Homo sapiens: one gene and its partners. The protein of the gene in region 2 interacts with the protein of the main gene of each other region in a pairwise test. Each region holds a gene or a part of one and is shown on either strand. Other genes may lie near its edges.

Region 1 (4,914 bases), on a different chromosome or scaffold from region 2:
TGAGCCATCATTATGCCACTGCACTCCAACCTGGGAGACAGAGTGAGAGAGACCCTGTCTCAAACAAACAAACCCAAAATAGGCCAGGCACAGTGACTCATGCCTGTAATCCCAGCACTTTGGGAGGCTGAAATAGGCGGATCATTTGAGGTCAGGAGTTCAAATTCAAGACCAGCCCGGCCAACATGGCAAAACCACATCTCTACTACAAATAAAAAATTAGTTGGGTGTGGTGGAGCATTCCTGTAATCACAGCTATTCAGGAGGCTGAGGCATGAGAACCGCTTCAACCCAGGAAGCAGAGGTTGCAGTGAGCCGAGATCACGCCATTGCACTCCAGCCTGGGCGACAGAGCGAGACTCTGTCTCAAAAAAATATAAATAAAAATAAAAAGATCAAGAGAACCTAAACCATTAAAAAAAAGACTCGCATGGGTGCGGTGGCTCCTGCCTGTAATCCCAGCACTTTGGGAGGCTGAGGCAGGCAAATCACTTGAGGTCAGGAGTTTGAGACCAACCTGGCCAACATGAGGAATCCCATCTGTACTAAAAATACAAAAATTAGCTGGGTGTGGTGACACACACCTGTAATCCAAGCTACTTGGGAGGCTGAGGCAGAATTGCTGGAAACCAGGAGGTGGAGGTTGCAGTGAGCAGAGATTGCACCACTGTACTCCAGCCTGGGTGACAAGAGTGAAACTCTGTCTCAAAAAAAAAAAAAGAAATCCGGAACACGCACATGTGCACACACACACTGGAGCACTTGTGCAAGCAGTGGCTTAGAATGGGAGTCCCAATCAGGGCTCGGTCACGCATTTGCAGTCAACACACACCACACGACACAAATACGTATAAAAAAGGCTGACATTTTATTTCCAGGTTGGCACGTGTATAAGGCACAGGGGCAAATGGCTTTGGGGTCCTGGAACTGGAAATGGAGACAGGTGTGTCTCAGGTGTCCCTGCCTCCACCACCCCCTAAGTGCACTTGAGACAGGACCAGTGGTGGTGGTTCCAGCCCAGGGTCCTGAAGGGTCCCACTGGCTCTAGGGGAGAGCCATGGGGACAGCTCCCCAGGCGGGACCCTCTACTCTCCAGCTACCCAGGAGGGACCCTCTCCTCCTAGGGGGCGAGGCCAGCTCCAAAGTGCTTGGTGGCTCCCCAGGCTTAAGGGACCAGCCTGCCAGGGAGGGCTGGGGTCAGAGAGAGAATAGTAAGATGAGAACGAGGAGAAGCACCCCCACTAGCACGGCGATGGCACACCACTGTCGGCGGTCTGGGAACGAGAAGGTCAGGGGTCACGGGGAGAGGGTACCACCTACAACCTGCCCCCACCAGGACTGACCCCTCCCCTGAGGGGACTCACCACTCGTCATGTGGGATACTTTGGCCAACTTCCTGAGGACCCCGTCCATGCGGGACTGGGTGTGGTCCATCTCTTGGGCGAAGGCATCCAGCATGCTGCCAAGAACAGGATGGCATCAGCCCCAGATGGCCCAGACACACCAGGGTGGCCGAGAGCCCCTGGCCCACCCCCAGGGTCCTGGCCTCACATGCCCTGCTCGTCCAGCTCTTCTCCAACGCGGCCGGACATGTGCTTCAGAACCTGGATGCTCCCAGACACCATCTCCAGCTGTTGATCCTGTTCATCCATGATCAGCTGCAGAGCGAAGGGGTGGGAGATGCTGTTGAAAACGACCCCAGAAGGCCAGGCGCTATGGCTTATGACTGTAATCCCAGCACTCTGGGAGGCCGAGACAGGCGGATCACTTGAGGCCAGGAGTTCGAGACCAGCCTGGCCAACATGGTGAAACCCCATCTCTACTAAAAATATAAAAATTGGCCAGGCATTGTGGTGGGCGCCTGTAATCCCAGCTACTAGGGAGGCTGAGGCAGGAGAATCACTGGAACCTGGGAGGCGGAGGTTGCAGTGAGCTGAGATCGCGCCACTGCACTCCAGCCTGGGCGACAAAGCGAAACTCCATATCAACAACAACAACAACAAAAAGGGACCCCAGACCTCAGATCAGTCTGCAAGGCTCTCCCCTCCCAAGATCCACCCCGCTGGCCCCAAAACCTGCTGTGTGGCCTGCTGCTCCTCGATGTAGCGAGATGTGGCCGAGACTGCGCTGGCATCCAGCAGGTCGCTGGGTGACTTCTGGGCAGCTGGCTTGCCTGCGAGTATCTGCAGGGGCACACAACATAGGCTCAGGGAGAGACCCCAACTCACAGCGGGGCCTGTGGGGCAAATCCCCACGGTGGTAAGTCAGGGGGGCAGACTCTGGGGCAGGACAGCCTGCATTCCCCACTCACCACTTACTAGCAAGGTGACCCAGAGACCCCATCATTTGGCTTCCTTGTGCCTCAGTTTCCTCATCTGTAAAATGCAGAGAGCAGGATGGGGCATGGTAGCTCATGCTTGTAATCCCAGCACTCTGGGAGGTGGAGGTGGGCAGATAACTTGAGGTCAGGAGCTCGAGACCAGCCTGGCCAACATGGTGAAACCCCATCTCTACTAAAAATACAAAAATTGGGCCGGGCACAGTGGCTCACACCTGTAATCCCAGCACTTTGGGAGGCCGAGGTAGATGGATCACGAGGTCAAGAGTTTGAGAGCAGCCTGGCCAACATGGTGAAATCCCGTCTCTACTAAAAATACAAAAATTAGCCAGGCTTGGTGGCGGGTGCCTGTAATCCCAGCTACTAGGGAGGCTGAGGCAGGTCAGAATCACTTGAACCTGGGAGGCTGAGGTTGCAGTGAGCCGAGATCACACCACTGCACTCCAGCCTGGGTGACAGGTTAAGACCTTCTCTCAAAAAAAAAAAAAAAAAAAAAAATTACCGGGTGTGGCAGTGCATGCCTGTAATCCCAGCTACTTGTGAGGCTAAGGCAGCAGAATCGCTTGAACCTGGGGGGCGGTGGTTGCAGTGAGCTGAGATCGCACCACTGCATTTCCAGCCTGGGTGTCAGAGTGACCTTGCCTCAAAAAAAAAAAAAATAAAATAAAATGGGAAGAGCTAGAATCCGTGTTTCCTGGGTTGAAATGAGGATTTAAAGAATTAATTGATGGGGGACACTTACAGCAGTGCCCAACACATAGTAATGCTAGTAAATGTCACATTTTACTATTTGTTTATTTTTGGGGGGATTTTAGCTGGGATTACAGGCACCTGCCACCACATCCAGCTAATTTTTGTATTTTTACTAGTGATAGGGTTTCCCCATGTTGGCCAGGCTGGTCTCGAACTCCTGACCTCAAGTGATCCACCTGCCTCAGCCTCCCAAAGTGCTGGGATTACAGGCGTGAGCTACCATGCCTGGCCCAACAGATGTTTGTTTGTTTGTCTGAGACAGAGTCTTGCTCTGTCACCTAGGCTGGAGTGCAGTGGTGTGATCTCGCCTCACTGCAACCTCCACCTCCCGGGTTCAAGCAATTCTCCTGCCTCAGCTTCCCAAGTATCTGAGATTACAGGTGATCACCACCACGCCTGGCTAATTTTTGTATTTTTTGTAGAGACAGGGTTTCATCATGTTGGCCAGGCTGGTCTCGAACGCCTGACCTCAGGTGATCCACTTGCCTGGGCCTCCCAAAGTGCTGAGATTTTAGGTGTGAGCCACCGTGCCCGGCTCCAACAGATGTATTTTAGAGTTTGGACTTGAATTCCCCCAAGGCAGCACATCTGGAAGGCACGTGGGCACTGCTATGGGATGACAAACTGGGAGGAGCCTCAGTCCCCCACCCTCCCCGACCCCACGTACGCTTATGAGGGAGAGAGAAAGGCTGGTGGTTCTCAACATATGAAAAATATCAACAGAGAACACCAAGAGAAAAAGTGGACTGACAGAGGTGGTTGGGAGAAACACAGAAACACACACACACACACACACACACACACACACACGGCAGGCACATTACAGAGGAAACTAGCAGATATTAGGATATGAGGGGGGAAAATGCAGATACACTCAGAGGCCAAGTGCACGCACCCAAATAGGTTAGGTGCATGCACAGATGAAAAGGCGGGGGCGGATCACCTGAGGTAGGGAGTTTGAGACCAGCCTGGCCAACATGGGGAAACCCTGTCTCTACTAAAAACACAAAAATTAGCTGGGCATGGTGGCACACTCCTGTTGTCCCAGCTACCCAGGAGGCTGAGGCAGGAGAATTGCTTGAACCCGGAAGGTGGAGGTTTCAGTGAGTCAAGATTGCACCACTGCACCCCAGCCTGGGCAACATGCCAAGACTCCATCTCAAAAAAAAAAAAGGAAGCTGGCCGGGCGCGGTGGCTCACGCCTGTAATCTCAGCATTTTGGGAGGCTGAAGCTAGTGGATCACAAGGTCAGGAGATCAAGACCATCCTGGCCAACATGATGAAACTCCGTCTCTACTAAAAATACAAAAATTGGCCGGGCGTGGTGGCTCACACCTGTAATCCCAGCACTTTGGGAGGCCGAGGCAGGTGGATCACGAGGTCAAGAGTTCAAGACCAGCCTGGCCAAGATGTTGAAGCCCCGTCTCTACTAGAAATACAAAATTTAGCCACGCATGGTGGTGGGTGCCTGTAATCCCAGCTACTCGGGAGGCTGAGACAGAATTGCTTGAACCCGGGAGGCGGAGGCTGCAGTGAGCCGAGATCACGTCACTGCACTCCAGCCTGGGCGACAGAGCAACACTCCGTCTCAAAAAAAAAAAAAAAAAAAAAAATTAGCCGGGTGTGGTGGCATGTGCCTGTATTACAGCTACTCAGGAGGCTGAGGCTGGAGAATCGTTGAGCCCAGGAGGCGGAGGTTGCAGTGAGCCGAGACTGCGCCACTGCACTCCAGCCTGGCAACAGAGTGAGACTGCATCTCAAAAAAAAAAAAAAAAAAAAAAAAAAGGAAGTTATGTGCGATGGCTCACGCCTGTAATCCCAGC
Region 2 (8,096 bases):
AGAGATGGGGTTTCGCCATGTTGGCCAGGCTGGTCTCGAACTCCTGACCTCAGGTGATCTGCCTGCTTCATCCTCCCAAAGTGCTGGGATTACAGGTGTGAGCCATCGCACTGGCATAAATACAACTTGTTTCTACTCTGAGAGTAGTGCCACAGCCAGCAGGGCCAGCCTGGGTGTTGGATCCCGGCTCTGTCATTTGCTGCCTGGTGACCTTCACCAGCACATCAGCCGTCTTTGCCTCAGTTTCCTGTTTTTGAAATGAGTGTAACAGCCTGTCTCTCTCCTCCCTCCCATCCTGTGACATCTTAGACAGCAGAACGTGAGGCTTGGGTATCCTGCTGTCTGCATACCCTGCGCATTTCATTTGTTTCAGTTGAAGCCGAGAATCCAGGCCACTGGTCTCCCTCTAGAAGCCGGTGCTGTTCTAATTATAGGCTCCTGGGTGCTGTTTCCTGGCCCTGTCTGTGGCCTCCAGTAACTGTGACTGTGAGGAGCCCTATTTTCAGATGAGGAAGTAGCAGAGAAGGGTCAGGAGCTCACTCAAGGTCACTCCTGGTTCAGAAGCAGAAAGGACCTGGGCCCGAAGCTCAGGCCTTGGTGACCATCACAAAGAAAACATGGCGTATCCTCTCCCCTGCCCCTCCATTTCCCTGTACCCTGAGCTCTTAGGGACGGCCAGGCCTGGTCCTGGTTGTAACCACCTCTCCAGTGAGGATCTCTTACATGCATACCCCGGCTGGTGGGTGGCATCCATGTCTGCAGTAAGCTGTGGGCTTAGGTGGGCCCGTCGGTGTGCTTCCCTCACCCCTTGCTGGCCTTAGGCTGTGTGTTCACCTCTCAGAGCTTTCCCTGTCTTTTGCGCCCTGGTTTACCATCTCCAAAGCCCTGGAGGCCTTCTTGGCCCTGTTTTATAGGTGAGGAACCCGCTGCGGGCGTAGTGTGCACTTGGCCTGGCCCCGGCTGGGCACACAGTAGGTGCTCAGTGTCCCACCTAGGACCACACAGCAGAGCCCCAACAGAAGCAGGGCTGGAGCCCAGGTCCCGGCTCCCAGGCTGGGAAGGGTGCCGGGCCTCAGGTGCAGCACTGTGCCACCTCTGGAGGTGGGAGGGGGCGGGATGCTGGTGGTGTGCTGTCCTGGGCAGCAGGGGACAGGCAGGGAGGAGCTCCTGGCTCGCTCTTGCTCTCCTAATGCTGGCCTTTGCTCCCTGCAGGGTCAGGATAAACATGAAGAATATTTTGCTGAGAACTTCGGCGGCCCAGAAGGGGAGTTCCACTTCTCAGTCCCGCATGCAGCCGGAGCCTCCACAGACTTCTCTTCAGCCTCCGCTCCCGACCAGTCAGCGCCCCCATCCCTGGGTCATGCCCACAGCGAGGGCCCAGCTCCTGCCTACGTGGCCAGTGGACCCTTTAGAGAAGCCGGGTTCCCCGGCCAGGCCTCCTCCCCTCTGGGCAGGGCCAACGGGAGGCTCTTTGCAAACCCCAGAGACTCATTCTCTGCCATGGGCTTTCAGCGAAGGTTCTTCCACCAGGACCAATCCCCTGTTGGGGGCCTCACAGCCGAGGACATTGAGAAGGCCCGGCAGGCTAAGGCTCGCCCCGAGAACAAGCAGCACAAACAGACGGTGCGTATGGGAGGCCCCTGGAGGGCCGAGGTAGCTGCCACCCACAGCAGTGATGGCCTTGGGCTCTGCTCTAGGGACTTTTCCTGGGTGCTGTGGTCTGGGGTTTTTAGGAGCGTGGTGGCCTTCTCTTGGTGGAGTGTGCTGTCAGGCGGAGCTGCTGACTGTGGGGTGGAGAGGAGATGTGGGGGCAACAGGAGCCTCTGAAGGTTGGTCCTGTCCCCTTGGCTGATTCCACAGGTCTCTTTCTCGTCTCCCTCCAGCTCAGCGAGCATGCCCGGGAGCGGAAGGTGCCTGTGACGAGGATTGGCCGGCTGGCCAACTTCGGAGGTAAGGTGGCTGTGTGCCCCTGGACTGCCTCACCTGCCCTGCCTGGGCACCACGCTGCGGCCTGCATGGAGGTGGGGACCCAGCAATATCCCGGGGAGGGCGTTGGGGGAGCAGGTGGCGGTGGCCGCCCCTGCATGAGCTTTTGGGGAGCTGGAGTTTTTCATGGGAGGATGATTCAGTTACTGGATTCCAGCTCTGCCTGGCTCTCCCCTGCGGGTTGGTACAGGGCCGATGCTGTGCCAGGAGCTGAGTTTGGATTGCCCGGCAGGCCTCGCCTGGAGGCGGTGTCTGCAGCATCTCTGTTTCACCCCTGCCTCAGGTTCACTACCAGTCGGCTGCTTTGGAGGCCTCTCAGGAAGGAGGCTGGGCAGTGAGGAAAAGCTCTTCCCTGGGGCTGTTCAGCAACTCAGCAGGGCTTTCTTTCCCCCTGGGACCAGACATTTAGGGAGCCCATTTGCTGGGTCCCCACAGGCCTGCGGCTCATGAGTGGAGTGACAAGATGCCATGGCCTCCAGCTGCTGCTGTTTAAAGCCGTTTGTCTGTACTTTGGGGGGTTGAGTTGTCATTGTGCCCAGTACACATGCGCTCTTTTTATAGAAGTTGAAGGGTGATTTTATAGTGAAGGTTTATAGCAGTTGTGTCTGCTTTGATGGCATCATGTTTGTCATGCTGCTGCTAATGCGCTGGCCCAGATGTTCCTGTTAAAGTGCCATCTCCTTTGCTGTGGTACACTCTAAGTTAGTTACTGGGATTGCATTTCTTTAACACTCAGCTGTCCTCAGTAGGTTCTCCAGGTGATATAATTAATGGAAGCCACAGTTTTGGTGGCTTGATTTGGACCCTGACCTTGGGTGAGTGGTTAGTTCCAGGGCTGTAGGCAGCAGAGGTCTGAGTGGTCCATGATGGTGCTGGTGCTGGGTGGGGCATGGAGATGCACTCTCATGGGTCTGCCTGTCTCTTTGCTGGTTTATGTTTTTCCTCCCATACACCATCCATCATACATGCTGTTCCTCCGCTCCTGCCTATTCTCTTTTGGAAACCCCATCCTACTTGTTCAAGACTGGTTCTGGGCAGAGGCTCACGTACTGTGCTCCCCGAGAGCCTGGTATTCTGGGAGCTGCGTAATGTGTGTGGGTTCTGACATTGAATGATGGCTGGCCCCCCTCTCCAAGGTGCTGAGCAGACTTGGTTAACTGGATAGAATTTTCTCAGCAGTAAGGTTTTCTTTCATAATTTTTACCTTAATATTTGGCATCCACTGTACTTAGCCATTCAGGAATTTAGTATGAAGTGTCATCTATGTGACAGCCAAGAGTATTTGCTTATTTCCTTTTCCTGGGGTAACATTTCAAGCAGTCCCTCATAGAATATCACACCTCCCTGAGTTCTGCTGTCAGAATGAGTTTGAGAATCACTGCCTTGGTGGCCTCTAGTGGTCCTTATCCCCTGGAAGACTTGGCATGTTACTTGCTTTGCACATTGGCTTGTCATTGGGTAACATGTATTATTTCTTATTAAAATATTGAATGGAGGCTGTCTTCTTTCCCCATGATATTGAGGGCAGGAGCTACCCTGTTTTCACATCGGTACCTTTTCTCTGTCCCCTCCCTCTTCCTTTCACTCTAGACTCTTGGTGAGCCTGTCCCTGGAAGGCTGAGTTTGACGTGTTTCAGGACTGGTGCAGTCCTCACTTCGGAGTCTTTGTGGGGTGGGGAGAAGCGGTAGAGCTAATGCAGGCTGTTAGGGAAAAGTGGTCAGAATGAAAGTCTTGATGGTGAATTAGAATCTGGTGGAGCACCACGAAGTCCTGGCGAAGGAGGCAGTAGTCAGACCCTTTTGGGTGACGGGTTAAGGAAGACAGAGACTGATGTGGAAGGGGTTATATATAGGAAGATGTGTAGGAAGAAAAAGGTAGAGAGCTCTCCTCAGAGGGTGGGGGATTATGGGTAGCCAGAGGGAGCCTGGGTTAGTGGAGTTGAAGCCCTAGTCTTGGGTGCTTTGTAGCATCAGAAGCCTCTGGAGCCTTTGCTGACACCTGCCTGATGTACGGAGCCATCTGTGGGTGTCTGTGTGCTGGAGGATTGCCCACAGCTATGATTCAGAGATGCTCATGTTGTTGCCCAAGCAATTGACAGATGATGTTTCAGGCTTGGAGATGGCAGGATGGGAGCAAAGAGAAGCCAGGTCAGGAAAGAACGTGCCGTTCTGGCCCTAGTGGGGAATTCTGGGCCTTCTGGCTCACCCAGTTGAACCTTTCAAACTGTAGGTTATGACCCTTTAGTAACTGTGAAATTAATTTAATGCATCAGGATCAGCATATAAAAAACAAGTTAACTGTAATCTCAGCACTTTGGGAGGCCGAGGTGGGAGAATCACCTGAGGTCAGGAGTTTGAGACCAGCCTGGCCAACATGGTGAAACCCCAATTCCTACTAAAAAAATACAAAAATTAGCTAGGTGTGGTGGCATGTGACTGTAATCCCAGCTACTCGGGAGGCTGAGGCACAAGAATTGCTTGAGCCCAGGAGGGAGAGGTTGCAGTGAGCTGAGATTGCGCCACTGCACTCCAGTGGGGGCGACAGAGTGAGACTCTGTCTCAAAAAACAAGTTAAACAGAATGGAATTCAATAGAAAAGATTAGAATTAATATCGTACATCCTTACAATGAACTATACACATGGCAAGATATTTTAGTTTCAGAGACATACATACTATTTAAGTATGTTCTTCACTACAATGTGAAATATATAGCTTACTGGTGGGTCATCATCCAAACAGTTTGTAGTTGCACTGTTGCGCTTTGTTCTCCTAGAAAATACCTCTAGCCTTTCTTCCCTTCATGGAGGAAAGGTGTTTTTCAGGTGCAGACTGACAGACTTTAGGAAGTTTTTACACGGGGTTATGAAGGAAAGGGATTGCTCTAGGTCTCAGGGAGGTAGGGCTGCTGCAGGGACCCAGACGGGTTTTCAGCGAGGTTGGCAGTAGGTATTCAGCTATATAGAAGTGGAAGTCAAGGACTTTCCAATTCCAGGGGCTCATTTTGATGCTGAAATGGGGGCGGGGCATGAGTCCTAAGTCCAATTTGGCTATGGGACATTATGACTGTGATGCTATGGGCAGGATGATCTGTGGATATTAGATTTTCTTAAAGAGTGGTGTGAAAGAAAGGGTCATATATTGGATATGGGGTCAGAACTGAACTTTAGTTCATCATAATAGCTGTCCTTTGATTACAACTGTGCTTCCAGTGTGACCTTGGGCTCTACCGTGGTTTTCTCTTTTGTAAAATAAGGGTCTTGCCGTTGATTCCAAATGGGAATATTTTGGTAAATGTTCCATGTTTACCTGAAAATAATTCATGTTGAGTGCAGTGATCCGTCTATCTAGTCTGGTTTATTATTCATATTGATCAGATTTTTAAGTGATTTTGGTTTGCTTATTCAATAAGCTATCGAGAGAGGCATTAAAAAGTCTGCTATGATTGTGGATTTACCTACTTTTAGTCTATTGACTTGTGCTTTATATGGTTTGAAGCTATGTTATTTGTTGCCTACAGATTCAGAATTCTTTTTTTTTGTTTGAGACAGAGTCTTGCTCTGTCGCCCAGGCTGGAGTGCAGTGGCACAATCTTGGCTCACTGCAACTTCTGCCTCCTGGGTTCAAGTGATTCTCCTGCCTCAGCCTCCCGAGTAGCTGAGACTACACGTGCGTGATAAGTCTCGATCTCCTGACCTCATGATCCGCCCGCCTCGGCCTCCTAAAGTGCTAGGATTACAGGCGTGAGCCACCGCGCCCGGCCAGATTTAGAATTCTTCTTATATCCTCCTAGGGATTGACCCTTCATTCTTATGTTATGCCTCTTTTCATCTCTGTGAAAGTCCTCATTGTCTGATATTACTATAGCTACATTCCAGCTTTGTTTTGGGTAATGTTTGCATGTTACCTTTTTTTTTTCCCCTGTACTTTCAACTTTTAAAATGTCCTTATGTTTAATGCATATCTATGAGCAGCATATATAGTTGGTTTTTTGTGTGTTTTAAGTGTAGACTGATAATCTTACAATGAGAATATTTAGTCCATTTACATTTAAATGCAATTGTGGATGTATTGGAGTTTATATCTACTACCTTAGTTTTTGTTTGTTTACTATTTGACCTGTCTGTTATGTCCCCCTTTTTCTCACCTGTTTTGCCTTCTTTTAAATTAATCAAGGACTTAAAATTATAGTCATGCGTCTCTCTTTTTTTTTGGAGACAGTCTCGCTCGGTCACCCAGGCTGGAGTGCAGCGGCGTGATCTCGGCTCACAGCAACCTCAGGCAATTCCCATGCCTCAGCCACTCGAATAGCTGGAATTACAGGTGTGTGCTGCCATGCCCGGCTAATTTTTGTAGTTTTAGCGGAGACAGGGTTTTGCCATGTTGGCCAGGCTGTTCTTGAACTCCTGGCCTCAAGTGATCCACCTGCCTCAACCTTCCAAAGTGCTGGGATTAAAGGCATGAGCCACCGCACCTGGCCCTCATGTGTGTCTTAACAAGGATTCAGTCCGAGAAATGTGTCGTTAGGCAGTTTCATCATTGTGTGAACATCATAGAGTGTACTTACACAAACCTAGATGGTATAGCCTGCTACATGCCTAGGCTGTATGGCATAGCCTGTTGCTCCTAGGCTACAAACCTTTACAACATGTTACTGTACTGAATACAGTAGATAACTGTAATACAACGGTATTTGTGTACCTAAACATAGAAAAGGTATAGTAAAAATATGATACAATCTATCACTGTCGTATATGCAGTCCGTTGACTGAAATGTTACATGATGCGTGACCGTGCATGTTCTCTCTTTGTTAGCTCTTATGTTTTACATTCCTTTACGGTTCTTTTGGTGATCACTCTTGAGATTACAGCACGCATCTTGACTTATTACAATATAAAAATAAGTGATTATTTTTACTACTTCTCCAATGATGCTAATACCTTAGAACACTTTTTAGATATTAAGATATATTAAACACCACAAGAATTATTTCTTTGTACAGCCCATATGAATTTAGATTTACCCACATATTTGCCCTTTTTTGTGTTTCTTTCTTCCTGCATTTCTATAATTTTATTTGGTATAATTTTCTTTTTCTCTGAGGAACTCTCCTCTCTCTTACAGTGTAGTCTGTTAATCATGAATTCTTTTAGTTTTTATTTATTTTTTATTGATTTATTTTTTGAGATGAAGTTTTGCTCTTGTCACCCAGGCTGGAGTGCAATGGCGTGATCTCGACTCACTGCAACCTCTGCCTCCCGGGTTCAGGTGATTCTCCTGCCTCAGCCTCCTGAGTAGCTGGGATTACAGGTGCATGCCACCACACCCAGCTAATTTTTGTATTTTTAGCAGAGATGGGGTTTTGCCATGTTGGCCAGGCTGATCTCGAACTCCTGACCTCAGGTGATCCACCCACCTCTGCCTCCCAAAGTGCTGGGATTACAGGCATGAGCCACCACACCCGACCTAGTTTTTATTTTTTTGAAAATGTCATTATAGCTGGGCACGGTGGCTCATGCCTGTAATCCCAGCACTTTGGGAGGTCAGGGTGGGTGGATCATGAGGTCAAGAGATCGAGACGATCCTGGCTAACACGGTGAAACCCCATCTCTACTAAAAGTACAAAAAGTTAGCTGGGCGTGGTGGTGGGTACCTGTAATCCCAGCTACTTGGGAGGCTGAGGCAGGAGAATCACTTGAACTGGGGAGGTGGAGGTTGCAGTGAGCCAAGATGGCGGCGTTGCACTCCAGCCTGGATGACAGCTCCATCTCAAAAAGAAAAAGAAAAAAAAGAAAAAAGAGAATATATCATCATACTTTATTTTTTTAAGGTATTTTTGCTGGGTAGAATATTCGATGTTGAAAATGTGTTTCCTTTGATCACTTTAATAATATTCCTCTATTGTTTTCTTACTTTGATTGTTTTTTTGAAAATGTGGCTATCAGTTATATTGCTGCTTCTTTGAAAGTTATGTCTTATTTCTTTTCTCTGGCTGCTTTTACGATTTCCTTTTTGTTTTTGTTCTCTAGCAGTTTGACTGTGACATGCTTGAGTGTGGTTTGCTTTGTATTTATTCTGCTTGGGGTTTACAGAGCATCTTGAACTGTGGC
Region 3 (7,955 bases), on a different chromosome or scaffold from region 2:
AACGAATTTGAACAGAAGGTCAAAATTAAAATGGAGTTTGAGGATATCCAGAAACACCGGCAGAGGTTAAAATAATGGGTCCCCAGAATGGAGATCACTTAGCATTTAGGACAGTGCCTGGGAAATTCTCACATTTACTTTACAGGTTGAGGAATTTCTGAGGAGGAGCCATGGGAGATGGCCAATTTTAAAAGAATCAGAAAATTAGATGGAAATTGAGACATCTAGGAGCTAAGTTGCTTCAAAAGTGTTCACTTAGCTTCTATCTGTACATCCACTCAAGATGAGTATTCTAAATGGAGGGGTAACAAGCCAGCTTTGATCTCTGCTCTCTTAAAGCATGTAAACCAATATCTCTAAACAGTCCTAAAGGATGAGAGCCGAGGAGCTATAGTTTGACTCTAGTGTGGTCTCTTGTTTTGTTTCTCTAACGTCACCAGTTTCATTGGAACATTTTGGTCATTTTTCAATGGGGTGGGGGAGATTGATATTCAAGTAAAGGAGATAAAGGGGGCCTAAAATGTAAACTTATTGAGTTGGCCATAAAAAGAGAGAAGCAAACTAATAAGCTTTTGGAAGTGATGCTGTTCTACGTAGCCAAGAGTGTGAGACATGTTTCAGGATGTAAGAAGCCAGAGGAAATGAGATAAGAGGATTAGATTGGACACTTCTGTGAGTCTGGAATCCCTCCTAGGTTGGGGAGTGGTGGCAGTTTTAGCGGATAGAGAGAATTCACATCTCTGAAAGCAGAGCTGTCTTCTCTAGGCTCTGAATATTAGAATCACCAGGGAAGCTTTAAAAAATAACTAGTGAACTCTGGCACTCCCCCAGAGATTCTGATTTAATTAGTCTGGGCTGGTAACAGTTATTTTAAAAAGCTGTTCAAGTTATTAAGTACAGCAAGAATTGAGAACTAACCTCTGGGCTAGATTTAAAAAAGATATAATGGGGAGGGGGAGGGGGAAATTGACTAAGTCACTTTCTATTCTTTTCCCCCAGAATTAGGCCTTGTTTCCTAAAAGTCTGACATGACTACAGGTTCTTGAGATGGTATTTGATTAGAGGGCATATGGATAAGCCTTCTTTGCATATACACATGTATATATATTTACATATACACATACATGTATCTTTACATACATACATACATATATTTGAATAAACATTAGAAAAATATAACCAGAATATCAAATTTGAAATTTCATGTATATTATTGCTTAAGAAAAGACAAAAGTACTGAAGTTTAGAAAGTATTTCAATGAACTGTCTGTAAATTCTAGTACAGGTGGAATGCGGATATGGCAAAAACTTCTCAAAGAGGTAGGCAAAAAACTGGAGCTTGCAGAACATGGAATAAAGTAGCCGAGAACCTAAGAAATCGTTCTTTGCAGATCTTCCAGTTCTAAACGTGTCTCCCTCCCACAGCAAGGCAGCCAGCCCAATGCCATCGTCTCTCCGCTCTTCCCACATGGATGCCTGCACCTCATCCCAAGCACTCAGATGCTTCTGAACCAGGCTCAAACTCAAACCAGCCTCGCAGTCAGGATCCCATTACTGATGTCATAGCCTGCAACTCACTCACGTCTCCTCTTTCAGATTCAAATCCGGGCTAAACTTAACTTAGGGTGGTGTGGCTACCTGAGCATAATAGAACAGTGCTCACAAGGTGATCCAGCTCCACAAGCACAAAAGTGAAACCAAAGCGACCCAAATAAAGGTTATGCAAGCTCAAAGGCCAGGGTGAGGGGAGAGATGAAAATCCTAAACCGAGCAAACAATACCAGCCTGCCGGAAAGGCACTAACTCGCTAACATTTCACTTTTTATTTGCCATTCTCAGGCATGATGCAACCTCAGGTTGCCCAATTTATATTTGCACATTATCTACTTGTCCACAAGGAGCTTCGAAAGTTTCCAACTCCATAAAATTCCATTTAAAAAGTTCAAGTGCTACCTAAAAAGGCTGCACGACAGGCAGGTAACCCCACCTTTACTTGGGCCCAACAAAGTGTGCTAAAAAGGTTTGGAGTTGCGTAAGGAGGCCAGGAAGTGAGAAGGTGCAAAGGCAGGCAGAGAAGAACTCGAGAGCCACGTTTCCATCTTTCCCCCACCATTGTCACACCCACTGGATTAGAAACTGCCCAGGGCATGGCACATAACTCACCTTTCTCCTTGCCCTGCCTCCTGCCCAGCTCCTCTTTCCAATCCAAAGGCCACTAATGATGGCAAGGGTGAGTGGGGAAAAAGCATGTTCAAGTCCTCAGCCCTCTTCCTCTTCCTGTTGCCTCCCGCCCCCACTTTCCACAGCGTGGCAGCCACCAGGTCACCCAGTCATCGGCTACACCTTTGCACCACCCAACAAAATGGCAGGTTAGCAACAGGCGAGGCCGAGAGCCAGGAGCTCGCTCCGGCCAAGCGCGGCCCCTGGCCATGCCCTGGGTTTCTAAAGGCGCCTCTGAGCCCCAACACCTTTCTTTCCTCCACGTCCCCAATGTTCGGCCCTGCCGGGCCGCCTACTCGCCCTCCCCAGGCAATTTCCGTCGCCCGCGGGGGAGCAGGTGCCCGCGTAACAGGTGCTAGGAGGGAGGGCCCGGGCGGCGGCGCGGGGCACCGAGAGGACCCCGGGAGGGAGCGCAGGACAAAGCCACGTCGAAGGGAAGGAGGCCGGGGGCGGACGCAGAGGAAGACAGCCCGGGGGACAAGGATGCCGCCGCCTGTCCTCGCTCCCCGCGCGACCCTCGCTCCGGCGGCCCCACTTACAATCTCCAGGCAGACGAAGGCGCCCGAGTAGGTCCGCAGGATGTCGGGGCCGGCGGGCAGGGTGACCCGGGGCGGCGGGAAGGACACGGCGGGGTTCGGGGGCGGCGGGACTGACGCTCCGCCGGCCGACATGCTGCCGCTGCCGCTGCTGCGTCTCCGCGCGCCGCCGCCGCCTCCCGCCTCCGCCTCCCGGGCTCCTGCCGCCGCCGCCGCCGCCGCTCAGCTCCGCGGGCTCCGGGCGCGCCGCGCGGGAGGAGGCGTGGCCGTGGGGCTCCTCGAGCCCCGCCCCGTCACGTGGGCCCAGGTGAGCGCCGCTCCGCCCTGGCGCCCGAGCCGCTCGCGATCACGTGCACAGGTGCGGCTATTGCAGCCGCCAGGCGCGGTCCTCCCAGCTCCGCCGACCTCACCTCCTGCTCCGCTGGCCAGCGCCAGCGCTCCGCGGGCGTCTCCATGCGCACCCCCATACCCCTGATCGCTATTTTTACCTTCTAGCCCTCCCCTTAGTTTGCACCTGTGCTCTCCACCTGTCTTCTCCCCAGCTCTCACAGCGCGCCCTCGCCCACTGTGCTCAGTTTGACAGATACACAGGTCTTGGTGCTGTGACTCAGAAGGTAAAATCGAGGTCACCAGTCACACTTAAAAAGTGGGGTGCTTATGTTTTAAATGGGACTCGAGTGGGATTTTTTTAAACGCCACTAGGGCAGCGTCGCGCGTGGGAGTCGGATGAGTCAGCTGCAGCAGCCACTGGCGCGGGGTCCCTGCAGGTCACCGGAGGTGTCCTCGTCCGTGAAACGGGGATGTGAAATCCACCGGCATAGATGCTCACATTAGATCATATAACATGAAAAGAGTTGAGCGCACAGTAAGCTCCTTAAATGCTAGCTGATATGATGAGAGCTCTTTTCCTTACACAGGCGCCTATCACTGCTCAGTGGACACACGATGTTGCATGGGTTATATTTTTTTAAGTAGAACTTTTAATTATTGATTTCACTGGTATAAAACTAATTGCTTATTGCCTTTTAATGGCTTAAGGGGATTTTTTTTTTAAGTCTATGTATGGTTCGAATTTCCTGCTCTAGTTTATCCCCATTTATCTCCATTTTATCGTTGGTTTTAACGTCAACATTTTGTAAGTTCAACAGAGGAGATGAGCTTAATTTTCTCGTCTACTAAAGATGAGCAAATCTACCAAATCTACATGCATCAGCACACACAGGTAGACCACGTTGGAAAAAAACATTGGCTAATCTCATCAGACATTCTCCAAGTTGAATCCTGACCTTGCCTGTCAGGTTCAGTCTCTGAGGAACTGTATTTAGCACTATGCTCTGCTCAGCAGATTCTAGTTACTCTACTTCTCTATTATTTTAATAAGTGAAACTCATAGGTGTGGTTGTGGCATCCGGGTAAAAACCACAAAACAGGGTGTGGGTGAAACCTTCTGTATATCCCTCCTCTCCCCACCTCTTAGTCACCACTTTCTGATATTTAATGTGTGGTGTTTATTTAATAGGAAATTTTAAGTTTTCTGCATGGATTTGTTTGATCGATGAGCCCTGTCTGTATTCAGACTCTGGCACGGGATGATCTTTCTGTTTTATTTTCTGCCTAAGAATTCTCAGTAAGCACTTAAAAAATGTTCAAAGGAAAGACTTCAAAGAAGTAATCATGGAGATGATCAGCAACTACGCTATGCCCAAAATATTTTAGTGAGTGAATTTAATACGTCCTTGGAGTTTCTAGAAGGGCTAATGATTCAGAAGAGCCTCAAGTGAGCTTATTTTAGCATTGCCACCTAGGAGAACACTTTCAACTGGGTCTCTTACTGCACCCTCCTTGCTGTACTGCATATCCTCAGCCATCTTTGCTTTGCCTCTCCTTCCTGCTTCCACAGTGACCAGTGGCATGAAAAAGGTTGTCAATGAGCGCTCTGTTATTGTAACATATTATCTGCTTGAAAAAGAACACTTTTTTTTTTTTTCGAGACAGAGTCTTACTCTGTCTCCTAGGCTGAAGTGCAATAGTGTGGTCTTGGCTCACTGCAATCTCTGCCTCCTGGGATCAAGCAATTCTCCTGCCTCAGCCTCCTGAGTAGCTGGGAATACAGGCACCTGCCACCACACCGGGCTAATTTTAGTATTTTTAGTAGAGACAGGGTTTCACTATGTTGGCCAGGCTGGTCTCGAACTCCTGACCTGGTGATCCACCCACCTCAGCCTCCCAAAGTGCTGGGATTACAGGTGTGAGCCACTGTGCCTGGCTGAAAGAGAACTCTTTTCTAGAACACTTTTTTCTCTTATGATCGCTACCAACACCTGTTTGTTCTTGATAATACCAGTTTCCTTCTAGTGAAGGCAACACCTCTAAAATCAAAGGAAGAAAACGCACTTAGCTCCACTCCACCCCACTCCTCTGCCTCTTCCTCCAGGACACTAACCATGAGCTCTTAACAGTTTCAACTTTCTGCTCTTTTCCCAACCTGTTCCGGTGGTTCCTGACTTCCAGCATAACTTTAACCCTGCTCATAGACTTCCTTTGGACTCCATTTTTATGGAATGTCAACATTCATGTTGTTATATTTTTAATGATCTTGACTCAAAACGACTTGCTACAGTCAATAAATTCTCACCTTATTATTGGGAATTTTTATGCTTCCATTCTCTTGGACACTGACATTCTGATGACTGTCTCCTATTGGTTTCTCTCTTTCATCCCCAATTCTTTGGCCTCCAGCCTTACCATCCCTTGCATTCTCTCATTGGCCCCATTCTAGCTTTTCTAGCTTCCCCTTCCAGCCTGTGCTTATGGGAAGGCATTTTCGTGATGCTCGTATTGATCCCACATTTCTTCCCATCTTGTACTTGACTCTAAACTTACTCTCACCGTTCCTTATTCTTCAGCTAGAGTTCAACCCACAATCTACATCTGCCCTCTCTGAATCATTCATCACACTGCCCAGGGTTGCTGAAAGAAGGTCATAATGAAGACTCTTGGTTCCACTACTAATTCATGTGATCTAATCCCCTAAAAGGTCATTTTCCTTTTACCTCCCCCCGCCTCCCCCACTGCCACCCCCATGCCTGGCAATATTTCTCTCAGTTCTTATCCCATAGCTTCTTTTGTTTTACCTGTCCTTGTGCCTGTCACAAGTAGGCTTATGTTCAGCGAATGAAAACAAATCTAGACTGTTCCACCCTTCCATAGTTTCTTTTAGCTTACAAGAAGTTTTAGGACATCTAGCCAGTAATACTTGTTTCACACTGCCATCAATCCAGTTATCCAAGACAAACACCTGGGTGTTTCCCTTGGTACCTCCTTCTCATGACACATATTTAATCAGTCACCAGGTTCTGGCAGTTCTACCATTTTATTTTCTAGAATATATGCACTTTCCATTCCACTGTTCTGACTCACTATCCCTCTCACAGTGAATGCTCTTCTCAGAAGGAATATGCTTCTGACAGTGAATTTCCCTCTCTTATATTCTCTGCACTGCTATCTGAATGATCTCTCAACAGAAAATTTATCAGTCACCCCTCTACTTAAAACGCCTCCAATTCCTTACTTTTCTCAGGATCAATTACAGATGCCCTGGAGTGCATTCAAGGTATTTCTGGCAAGTGGCTTCTGATGAGCCCTCCCACCTCACCAGCCTTGTTGATCCACCTACATCTTCAATACCTCCTGCCTCCAACCTTTACACATTCTCCTCTCTTTTGCAGGATATCCTTTCTTCTTACCACTCCCATATCCTCAACCTATTTTCTGTATATTTTGGGTCACAGGGACAGATATTTCTGGCAGCCTTTCTCTGCCCATTCAAGATTATGTAGGGCCCCCTGTCACCCAGTGTGTTTCTATAACCTGCTGTGCATAATCCACACAGAGAACGTATATCATTGAATTGAAATTGTGTTTTTACTTGTCTCCTATTGCTTGCTAGTGTTGTGTAACAGGGTATTAAATCAAAAAGTTCAGTGGAGGCACCAGGAGATGGTAGATATCAGATACCAACATGAGCTGTGAATCAGACCACCAGAAGTTTTAAAGTGGCCCGACTGTGATCTCCTTAGACAATCTATAAACCCACAATTCTATCAAGAATATGAAAAGCTCAGGAGTTACAGGATTTGGAAAGATTTCTTTTTTGGCAGTGGAGTGGGGAGGCACCGTGCTGGGAATCACACTTCACTCTTCCCCTCCTCCATCCCCTTCTTCCCCACTGGAGGAAACAGCTGAGTTTTATTCACATTATATAATAGAAACTCAAGTAAAATCAGCTGACGAAGTGAACACTGCATCTAAATTTCTATGCTTCATCGTTGTTCCTATGCTACTTCATGTTTCATAAGAAGTGTTTCTTTTCCTAGGCAAAGTTGAGCCCCATCTCAGCTTTTTATCATTTCCCCTTTGTATTTTTCTTAGGAAATTCATTCTTAATTTTCTTTTCTGTCTCCTCAATGTTCAATTTTTGCTTTATACACAGCCTTTCTCTTTGAATATGCATGCTTCCCTTATCATCAAAAACAGCAACAAGTAATTCCAGTCCAAAATACAATAACCAGGACTAGATTAACCTTCCTTGCACAAAACAGCTGAAATCCCAGAGGAAATATATGAAACAATAGTTTCAGACATTGTACTTCAGGTAACACAGAACAGTGATCCACTGGAGATGGGAAAAAATGAGGTGAGCCCTGCGATTTCCCCAGCTTGGGGAGAGTTTTCAGAGCACAGGGAGGGGAGACACTGGTGGAAGCTAGCAGTCTCCATGAGATGAGGTGGTGAAGCTGGGAATTTGAGGAGGCCAACCAAGCTAGAGTTCACAGAGTACTGGGGAGAAAAGAGCTGCATACAGATAAACACTGGGAGGCCAGCAAAGGTCCCCTTTATTAAATCTTCAATTGAGTGCTGATTAGCACATGAAGGTGACTAACTTACCCAAGGCCAGGGCAGAAACATTCCAAAGGAGCAGTGGAATAATCCCAGGAATTCATGCAGGACCAGGAATAGTTCACATTTCCACCATTCAGAGTGGAAAATCTCCTAATTAATGGAGCACTGGATAGAATATTCTGAAGAGTATTGCCTCAGTACTGGGGCAAAGTCAACCTTAGACAAAAAACAAAAAACAAACAAAAAAGAGGCAGCTTTCATTCTGCTTTACAAAGCTTTATAAAAAGCATCAGAAGG
Region 4 (8,096 bases), on a different chromosome or scaffold from region 2:
GAGGCCTGAGCACATGTGGCAGAAGGAACATGAGGACATAGTTCAGACAAACAGGAGGGTCTCAGTAGAGCTGTGGAAGAGGTACAGACAAGCCCAGGTGGTTGAAGACAGTAAATGGAAAATCCACTGAGAGGAAGGAGCTGGAAGGCGTTTCCAGCCCAAGTTAATTTTCAAGAAAATAAACAGTGCATATTTTGCTGACATTACCCATCCTCACTGCTCAGAGGTGTATAATAGCACTTTGAGAATGGGCTGGTGCCGTTTTGTGACTTAAACTTCTCCCACTGAATAGGAATTTCCCCAGAGCTACAGTGAGGGTGGAAAAAAGAGGATCTGCAAGAGGAAGTCCTGTATTCTTGGCACTGTGACTTGTCCTCTATTTGTTTTCGCTTTTACAGCAGTGAAAATAGCCCCGTGGGTGAGGCGGTCTATCAGGTAAATAGACTTCCTTAGTTCTGTGTTTCTTTAGCACACATATTTTTGACGTCTCCCGGGTCTGTTTGGCCACCCATGGTCTGTTCTGAATTTGATTGATGTTTACTTGCCTAAGAATTGTTATTTGAGGTCAAGTGGCATTTTCCAGGGTCCTCATAATTTCATCTTGTTGTTTGAGCCTGTATTGATTGACACTCTGGACACAGGTGACAACAGCTTTGTAGCTAATGAAGTTGTCCCTTGGCTGCAGGTTATTTCAGTAGAAGAATTGTGTAATTTCATAGAGCTTAAGGCATGGACACAAGAAAGGAACCATTCTGGAGGGTGTCTATGTGATGGTAATTCTCTGCTCACCTCGCAGTAGGTAGGAGTTTATATACCAGGATCCAAAGCTGGAGGCTTCAGAGAAAATAATGTTGGAGAATTTAAGCTATTTAGCTCATGGAGCCTTAGATTTAATTGACAGTGTGCCTCAGGTAAGTTTAAGAGCTTAATGATGTCTTGCCTTAAACTTGAATCCATGAGGTTATTCCTAGATGATGCACTGATAGTTTGAAATTTTTTATTAAAAAATATTAAAGTGTGGAAGATAAAGAAGAAAGGCATAATCTTATAGAACGAAACAACTACCACTGGCTGTCCTTATCGGGCGGCTTCTGTCTTTTGTCTTTGTGCCTGTTTTCTATGAAATTGTCATCAGCGTTCATACAATTTTGTATCCTAATGCAGTCTCAGTCTTATTAATGATCTCCTTGCACTGTTTGATGAAAAACTGTGATTCACGTGGAAACTAGGGATGTGGTTTCACCAGGAGTCCAGAGGAAAACTGCCCACTCTGATTGTGGGGGAGCAGCCCAACTCCCCGATGGAAGCATTTTCCATTCCACAAATCACTGTGATTTGTCATTACGCCATGCTTGAACCTGGCTTTAAGATTGTGGTAACTTTATCTTTGACTTGTGGGACATACCGCCCTGCAGAAACAGCCTGAACTCAGAAGATGGAATTGGCACACATTTCTCTGAAATATTTCACTCTGAGCTTCTGTACTTTTACTGAGGTCTACTGAAACTGGAATTTGTTTGGGATCAAATAACCAAAGGCCAATTTCTCGCTTCCTTTCCCAAAGAGCTGGAGGTCCGGGTTTCCCCTTTTGTCTACCTTCCTGCTTAACCATTTATGGCTTAAGACGCACCATTCACCTTGAACATTTTCAGGAATGATAGACAGGTTAAATTCCATGACAACAAAAACCGTATTGCAGAATTATTGTAGCTTAAAACCTGCCAGGTGACCCTCCTTAGTTTAAGAATTTTAAGCAATATTCAATTTAATAAGTGTACAATTTGGATAGTTCCTGAAAGTTGATTATAGTCAGGATCCACTGTGCTCCCATTATTGGAAATAACGTTTTTCTCCAGAGACCCTAAAAGACCAGACCTTTTTGACCCTCGCAGCTGGTTCTCTTTCTTGTTTACAAACTAGGCTATTTTCTTAGGGGACCTGACAATTTGCATGTGAGTGCCCTTCTTTTGCCTAAGGAATCCCTTTTTTTATTCTGGGGTCATTTCTGCGATATACATATTCATGGGCCTAGCTTAGTGTTTCTTTTCTGGGGGCTGGGAGATGGAGACCAGAGTAGAATTGAATATTTCTCCTTTTTCTTCCTGGAAGAATCGATCTTCGAGGATTAAGTTGGTAGTTAAAAAGCCGCTTTATCTTTCTGAAGGCCTTGCCCTTTTATGTGTTGATCTGATACCCAAATGTAGAAAACAGTTCTATACACAGCTTGAGGATATATTTTTAGAAGAGTTTACCACCCACATGTGGCTAAAGCTTTGTGGGGAGTTCTTTTTTTTTTTTTTTTTTTCCGTTGTGAGTGAAATAGATATTTCACTATATCTTGCTCTTGTTTTCAAACCCTTTAAAAAGCCATTGACCATTTTCTCTTTTATTTTTAGTTGACACATAATAATCATACACATTTATGGGATAAAGAGTGATATTTTCTTATATGTCTCCAGTGTGTAATTGATCAAAGAGTAATTGGCATGTTCATCACCTCAAACACTTATCATTTCTTTGTGTTGTGAGCATTCAGAATTCTCTCTTCTAGCTATTTGAAAATATACACTGAATAATTGTTAACCATATTCACCCTACAGTTCTACAGAACAGTAGAACTTATTCCTCCCATTGAACTGTAACTTTGTACCTATCAACCAACCTCTCTCTAGCCTCTCTTCCCCTCCCCTTTGTAACCTCCAGTAACCACAGTTCTTTTCTCTACTTCTGTGAGCTCAATTTTGTCGTCCTTCCTTTGTGGAAGCTGTGAAATACCTTTCGAGGGGAGTGCGGACTTGTGGTCAGGTGTAAATATGCATTCAGCTGGGCAGAGTTTGGGAGATTCCTTTAAAACCTGTTCTTTTGCTGAAATTCTAGGTATCTTTTTATTTTATTTTATTTTTTATTTTTCACCTCATCAGTTAGAAGTGTCAGAAACTCTCCTTTACCCCCCACTTAGTCTTTGGCATTTAACCAAAATATACTTTATTTACTTATATATTTTTTGAGATAGGGCCTTGTTCTGTTGGCCAGGCTGGAGTACAGTGGCGTGATCACAGCTCCATGCAGCCTCAACCTCCCTCTCGAGCTCAAGCCATCCTTCCACCTCAGCCACCACACTAATTTTAGTGGTTTTTTGTTGTAGAGACAGGGTTTCGCCATGTTACCCAGGCTGGTCTCAAACTCTTGGAGTGAAGTGATCCATCCATCTTGGCCTCTCAAAGTATTGCCATTACAGGCATGAGCCTCACCCCAAAGCACTCAAATTTTGTTTTTTTAAATTGAACTTGAGTGCTTTGGGGTAAGACCTGCCTATTCCATTTCACCTTATAGTTTTTCTTACTCTTGGCCTATGTAGGGGAGAGAGAAGACTTTCTTTCTGCCTTCTGAAGGTACCATAATTGAGCCTATGAAATAAACTGATGATAGATTAACGGATGAAAATACATACAAATTTATTCCATGCATAAATGTGGGAGTCCCACAGAAAGTGAAACTCAAAGCAAGGTCAGATAATTGAAGTTTATGTAGTGTGCCTGAGCTACGAAAAAGGAATAAGCGGCTGGGCGTGGTGGCTCATGCCTGTAATCCCAGCACTCTGGGAGGACAAGGCAGGAGGATCGCTTGAGCCCAGGAGATCAAGACCAGCCTGGGCAACATGGCAAAGCCCTGTCTCTACAGAAAATACAAAAATTAGTCTGGCATGGTGGCTCATGCCTGTGATCCCAGCCACTCTGGAGGCTGAGGCAAGAGGATCGCTTGAGCCTGGGAGGTCGAGGCTGCAGTGAGCCGAGATAGTGCCACCGCACTCCCGCCTGAGTGACAGACAAGACCCTGTCTCAAAATAAAAAAGAAAAAGGAATAGGGGCCTGGGGCTCCTGGAGGCAGGTGGTGATAGGTTATAGAAGGGTAAGGGGAGGAAATGTATGGTGAACAAAGGTTGCCTTGTTAATGCAGATAAAAAGCCTCTTGAATGATGAAAGTTGTCTCAGAGTAGCCTCAGAAGAGCAGGTGATGGCTTGTGACCAGGTGTCGACCTTCAGTCTCCTCTCCTAAGTTAAGATCTTCCAGCCAGGCACGGTGGCTCACGCCTGTAATACCAGCACTTTGGGAGGCCAAGGTGGGTGGATCATGAGGTCAGGAGTTCAAGAACAGCCTGGCCAACATGGTGAAACCCCGTCTCTACTAAAAATACAAAAATTAGCCGGGTGTGGTGGTGGGCATCTGTAATCCCAGCTACTCAGGAGGCTGAGGCAGGAGAATCACTTGAACCTGGGAGGCAGAGGTTACAGTGAGCTGAGATCACACCACTGTACGCCAGCCTGGGCCACAGAATGAGACTCCGTCTCAAAAAAAAAAAAAACTTCACTGGTTGATGAGGGTCCTATGATAGTCACTTTCCTTTACACAGATCAAGTATCTCTTCTCTGAAATGCTTGGGACCGGAAGTGTTTCAGATTTTGGATCTTTTTTTCAGATTTTGAAATACTGCATTCTACTTACTGGTTCAGCATCTCTAATCCAAAAATCCAAAATCCAGAATGCTCCAATGAGCATTTCCTTTGAGCATCATGTCTGTGTTCAAAAAGTTTCAGATTTTGGATTTTCACATTTGGGATAATCAACCTGTAGATTTCAATTTATTGTATCAAAGGGCAGCTTTTCAGAGCTGCTCCTGTGTCTGCAGTTTCTCAGAATAATCAGCTCAATATATGCCAAAGAAATAGATCCTGAGGTGACATGTTCTAGTCTCCTGCAGTCATATTTTGGGGTAGTGTGTCCTGAGCCCCATCACCTATCTGACTCATTTATAAGTGGGATCCCTGAAAGTATTTAAATAAACTTTTAATTTTGGCATAATTTTTGATTTGCAAGAAAGTTGTGAAGTTAGTACAGGGAGTTCCTCACCCAGTTCCTGGTTCTCTCCATTATTCACATCTTACATCACACAGTATGTTTGTCAAACCAAGAAACTGATGAGGGTATGTTATTGTTCACCAAACTCCAGACTTTATCTGGAGTTCCCAGTTCTCCCACTGATGTCCTTTTTTTCTGGGCCAGGGTCCTAACCTAGGGTACTACATTGCATTGATATATTTTATTTTATTTTATTTTATTTTATTTTATTTTATTTTATTTTATTTTATTTTATTTTATTTTATTTTTTGAGACGGAGTCTCGCTCTGTCGCCCAGGCCGGACTGCGGACTGCAGTGGCGCAATCTCGGCTCACTGCAAGCTCCGCCTCCCGGGTTCACGCCATTCTCCTGCCTCAGCCTCCCGAGTAGCTGGGACTACAGGCGCCCGCCACCGCGCCCGGCTAATTTTTTGTATTTTTAGTAGAGACGGGGTTTCACCGTGTTAGCCAGGATGGTCTCGATCTCCTGACCTCATGATCCACCTGCCTCGGCCTCCCAAACTGTGTTTTATTTTTTTGAGACAGAGTTTTGTTCTTGTTGCCCAGGCTGCAGTGCAATGGCACAATCTCAGCTAACTACAACCTTGGCCTCCCGGGTTCAAGCAACTCTCCTGCCTCAGCCTCCCGAGTAGCTGGGATTACAGGCACGCACCACCACACCCAGCTAATTTTTGTATTTTTAGTAGAGATGGGGTTTCCCCATGTTGGCCAGGCTGGTCTCGAACTCCCGACCTCAGGTGACCCACCCGCCTCGGCCTCCCAGAGTGCTGGGATTATAGGCATGAGCCACTGTGCCCGGCCCCACATTGCATTTAGTCATCTTGTCTCCTCAGCCACCCTGGCTATGTTAGTTTCTCAGTCTTGCTTTGTTTTTCATAACCTAGATACTTTTTGAAGATGAGGGATTCTGTAGAATTTCCCTCAAATCAGGGTTGTCTGATATTTTTCTCATGATTACAGTGGGGTTGTGGGTTCTGGGAGGAGAAGACCACGGAGGTGAAGTGTCCTTCTCATCCTGTCACATCAGAGGGCACATGACATGCACATGACATTGCAGATGTTAATATCAAGGGAGAGAGTAAAGTATTCCTGATGTTAATTAATATCAAGAGAGAGAGTGAAAAGGAGGTATTTGCCAGATTTTCTCGCTTGTAGTTTACTGTCTTTCCCTTTTCATAGATGGAGTTTTGCTCTTGTTGCCCAGGCTACAGTGCAATGGTGCGATCTTGGCTCGCTGCAACCTCTGCCTCCTGGGTTCAAGCAATTCTCCTGCCTCAGCCTCCTGAGTAGCTGGGATTACAGGCATGTGCCTGTATATAGACATGTTTCCCCATGTTGGCCAGGCTGGTCTCGAACTCCCGACCTCAGGTGATCCACCCGCCTTGGCCTCCCAAAGTGCCGGGATTACAGGCATGAGCCACCACGCCTGGCGACTCTGTTCTTTGAAAGAGAGTCAAGGAGTCCAGCCCACACACAGGAGAGGAAAGGGAGAGATTAAATTCCACCTCCTACGAGGTGCCATGGCTCATGCCTATAATCCCAGCAGTTTTGGAGGCTGAGGCGGGTGGATTACTTGAACCCACGAGTTTAAGACCGGCCTGAGCAACATATTGAGACCCCCATCTCTATGGAAAGTTAAAAAAAAATCGCTGAGTGTGGTGGTGCACACCTGTAGCCCCAGCTACTCAGGAGGCTGAGGTGGGAGGATCATTTGAGCCCAGGAGTTGAAGGCTGCAGTGAGTTACGATCAAGCCATTGCATGCCAGCCTGGAAATAGTGGAATGAGCAAGACCCCATCTCTACAAAAAATAGAAAATTAGCTGGGCTTGTTGATGCACACCTGCAGTCACAACTACTCGAGAGGCTGAGGGAGGAGGATCGCTTGAGCCCAGGAGGCTGAGGCCATAGTAAGCTATGATGGTGCCAATGGTGCCACTGCACTCCAGCCTGGGTGACAGAGTGAGACCCTGTCTCAAAAAAAGAAAATAAAATAAAAGTGCATCCCCTGGAGAGGGAGTATCTACTCATACTATTTGGAATTTGTCAGTGAGGAAGATTTGTCTTTTCTTGTTTAAAAAATAGACACTTCTGGCCAGGTGTGGTGGCTTACACCTGTAATCCCAGCACTTCGGGAGGCTGAGGTGGGTAGATCACTTGAGGTCATGAGTTCGAGACCAACCTGGCCAGCATGGTGAAACCTCATCTCTACTAAAAGTACAAAAACTAGCCGGGCGTGGTGGTGGGTGCCTGTAATCTCGGCTACTCGGGAGGCTGAGGCAGGACAATTGCTTGAACCTGGAAGGTGGAGCTTGCAGTGAGCCGAGATTGTGCCACTGCACTCCAGCCTGGGCAACAGAGGGAGACTCCGTCTCAAAAAAAAAAAAAAAAAAATAGACACTTCTAATGAGCTGATGCCATAGATACCCTGTCATAGATGGGATAGATGTGCCATATGGGCACAGGAGACCTCAGCTGTGCAAGGATGTCAGATGCACTTGGCTTTCTCAAGCCCTCGTGGGGAAATATAGATCACATCCCTTCCCCTGGGGTGGGCAGAGAGTAACGTAATATGGTCCAGTTAGGGAAATATTAATAGAAGCTAACTTGCAGACAGGAAGCAATTAGGATGCAGGAGGAAGACATATGTCATCAAGGGCTAGATCATGTGGTGTCAGCCAGGGGATGTGAAACAGGCATGAAAAGCGCTTGACAGGCAATGTCCACCACCACCCTGTTCCCACATTATCCGTAAGTCTTGCTAAAGGCAAGATTGCTGTTTTCTGGAATTTTCAAAGACAGACAGTTGGACTACCTGCAGTCATCTGGAATTTGGCCAGAACAAAGGAAGTAAGCAAATAGAAGACTCCCAAATAAGGTATATATTTATCATCAAAGCAGATGCCCAAGCCTGTTTACCTCACTCAGAGGAGGCGCCCACGGCAACTATGAACTCTTACTTTACACAGAGTCCTTGCACGCTGGGTTCTGCTGGTGTCCAAGTCCTCAGAGGCTTTGAAGTAGCAAATTGTGTTGGTGGGATGGAGCCGCCATCAGCCCCATGTTGGACTGTTGGCAGCCTGGGACCGTGTAGAACCACAGATGTGGACACAAGCATTTTTCCTTTCCTTTCTCTTTTTCTCTTTCTCTCTCTCTTTTTTTTTTTTTTTTTTTTTGCAGAT

The links.
Region 1: the proteins of COQ8A (region 2) and STX10 interact in binary tests that used the Homo sapiens proteins (3 or more experiments, as listed by UniProt).
Region 3: the proteins of COQ8A (region 2) and MAL2 interact in binary tests that used the Homo sapiens proteins (3 or more experiments, as listed by UniProt).
Region 4: the proteins of COQ8A (region 2) and LITAF interact in binary tests that used the Homo sapiens proteins (3 or more experiments, as listed by UniProt).

What each region holds. Positions count from the first base shown.
Region 1 is NC_000019.10:13,143,213-13,148,126, forward strand, and holds the end of STX10 (syntaxin-10), read right to left. Parts: intron 2,376-4,914; coding exon of another isoform or gene 2,343-2,375; exon of another isoform or gene 2,328-2,342; intron 2,184-2,327; coding exon 2,076-2,183; intron 1,659-2,075; coding exon 1,552-1,658; intron 1,460-1,551; coding exon 1,365-1,459; coding exon of another isoform or gene 1,297-1,364; exon of another isoform or gene 1,275-1,296; coding exon 1,198-1,274; 3' UTR 846-1,197; downstream 1-845. UniProt on the Homo sapiens protein: SNARE involved in vesicular transport from the late endosomes to the trans-Golgi network.
Region 2 is NC_000001.11:226,963,788-226,971,883, forward strand, and holds part of COQ8A (atypical kinase COQ8A, mitochondrial), read left to right. Parts: intron 1-1,212; coding exon 1,213-1,623; intron 1,624-1,883; coding exon 1,884-1,950; intron 1,951-8,096. UniProt on the Homo sapiens protein: Atypical kinase involved in the biosynthesis of coenzyme Q, also named ubiquinone, an essential lipid-soluble electron transporter for aerobic cellular respiration.
Region 3 is NC_000008.11:119,203,409-119,211,363, reverse strand, and holds the start of MAL2 (protein MAL2), read right to left. Parts: upstream 3,002-7,955; 5' UTR 2,892-3,001; coding exon 2,760-2,891; intron 1-2,759. UniProt on the Homo sapiens protein: Member of the machinery of polarized transport. Required for the indirect transcytotic route at the step of the egress of the transcytosing cargo from perinuclear endosomes in order for it to travel to the apical surface via a raft-dependent pathway.
Region 4 is NC_000016.10:11,576,529-11,584,624, reverse strand, and holds part of LITAF (lipopolysaccharide-induced tumor necrosis factor-alpha factor), read left to right. Parts: intron 1-7,632; exon of another isoform or gene 7,633-8,096.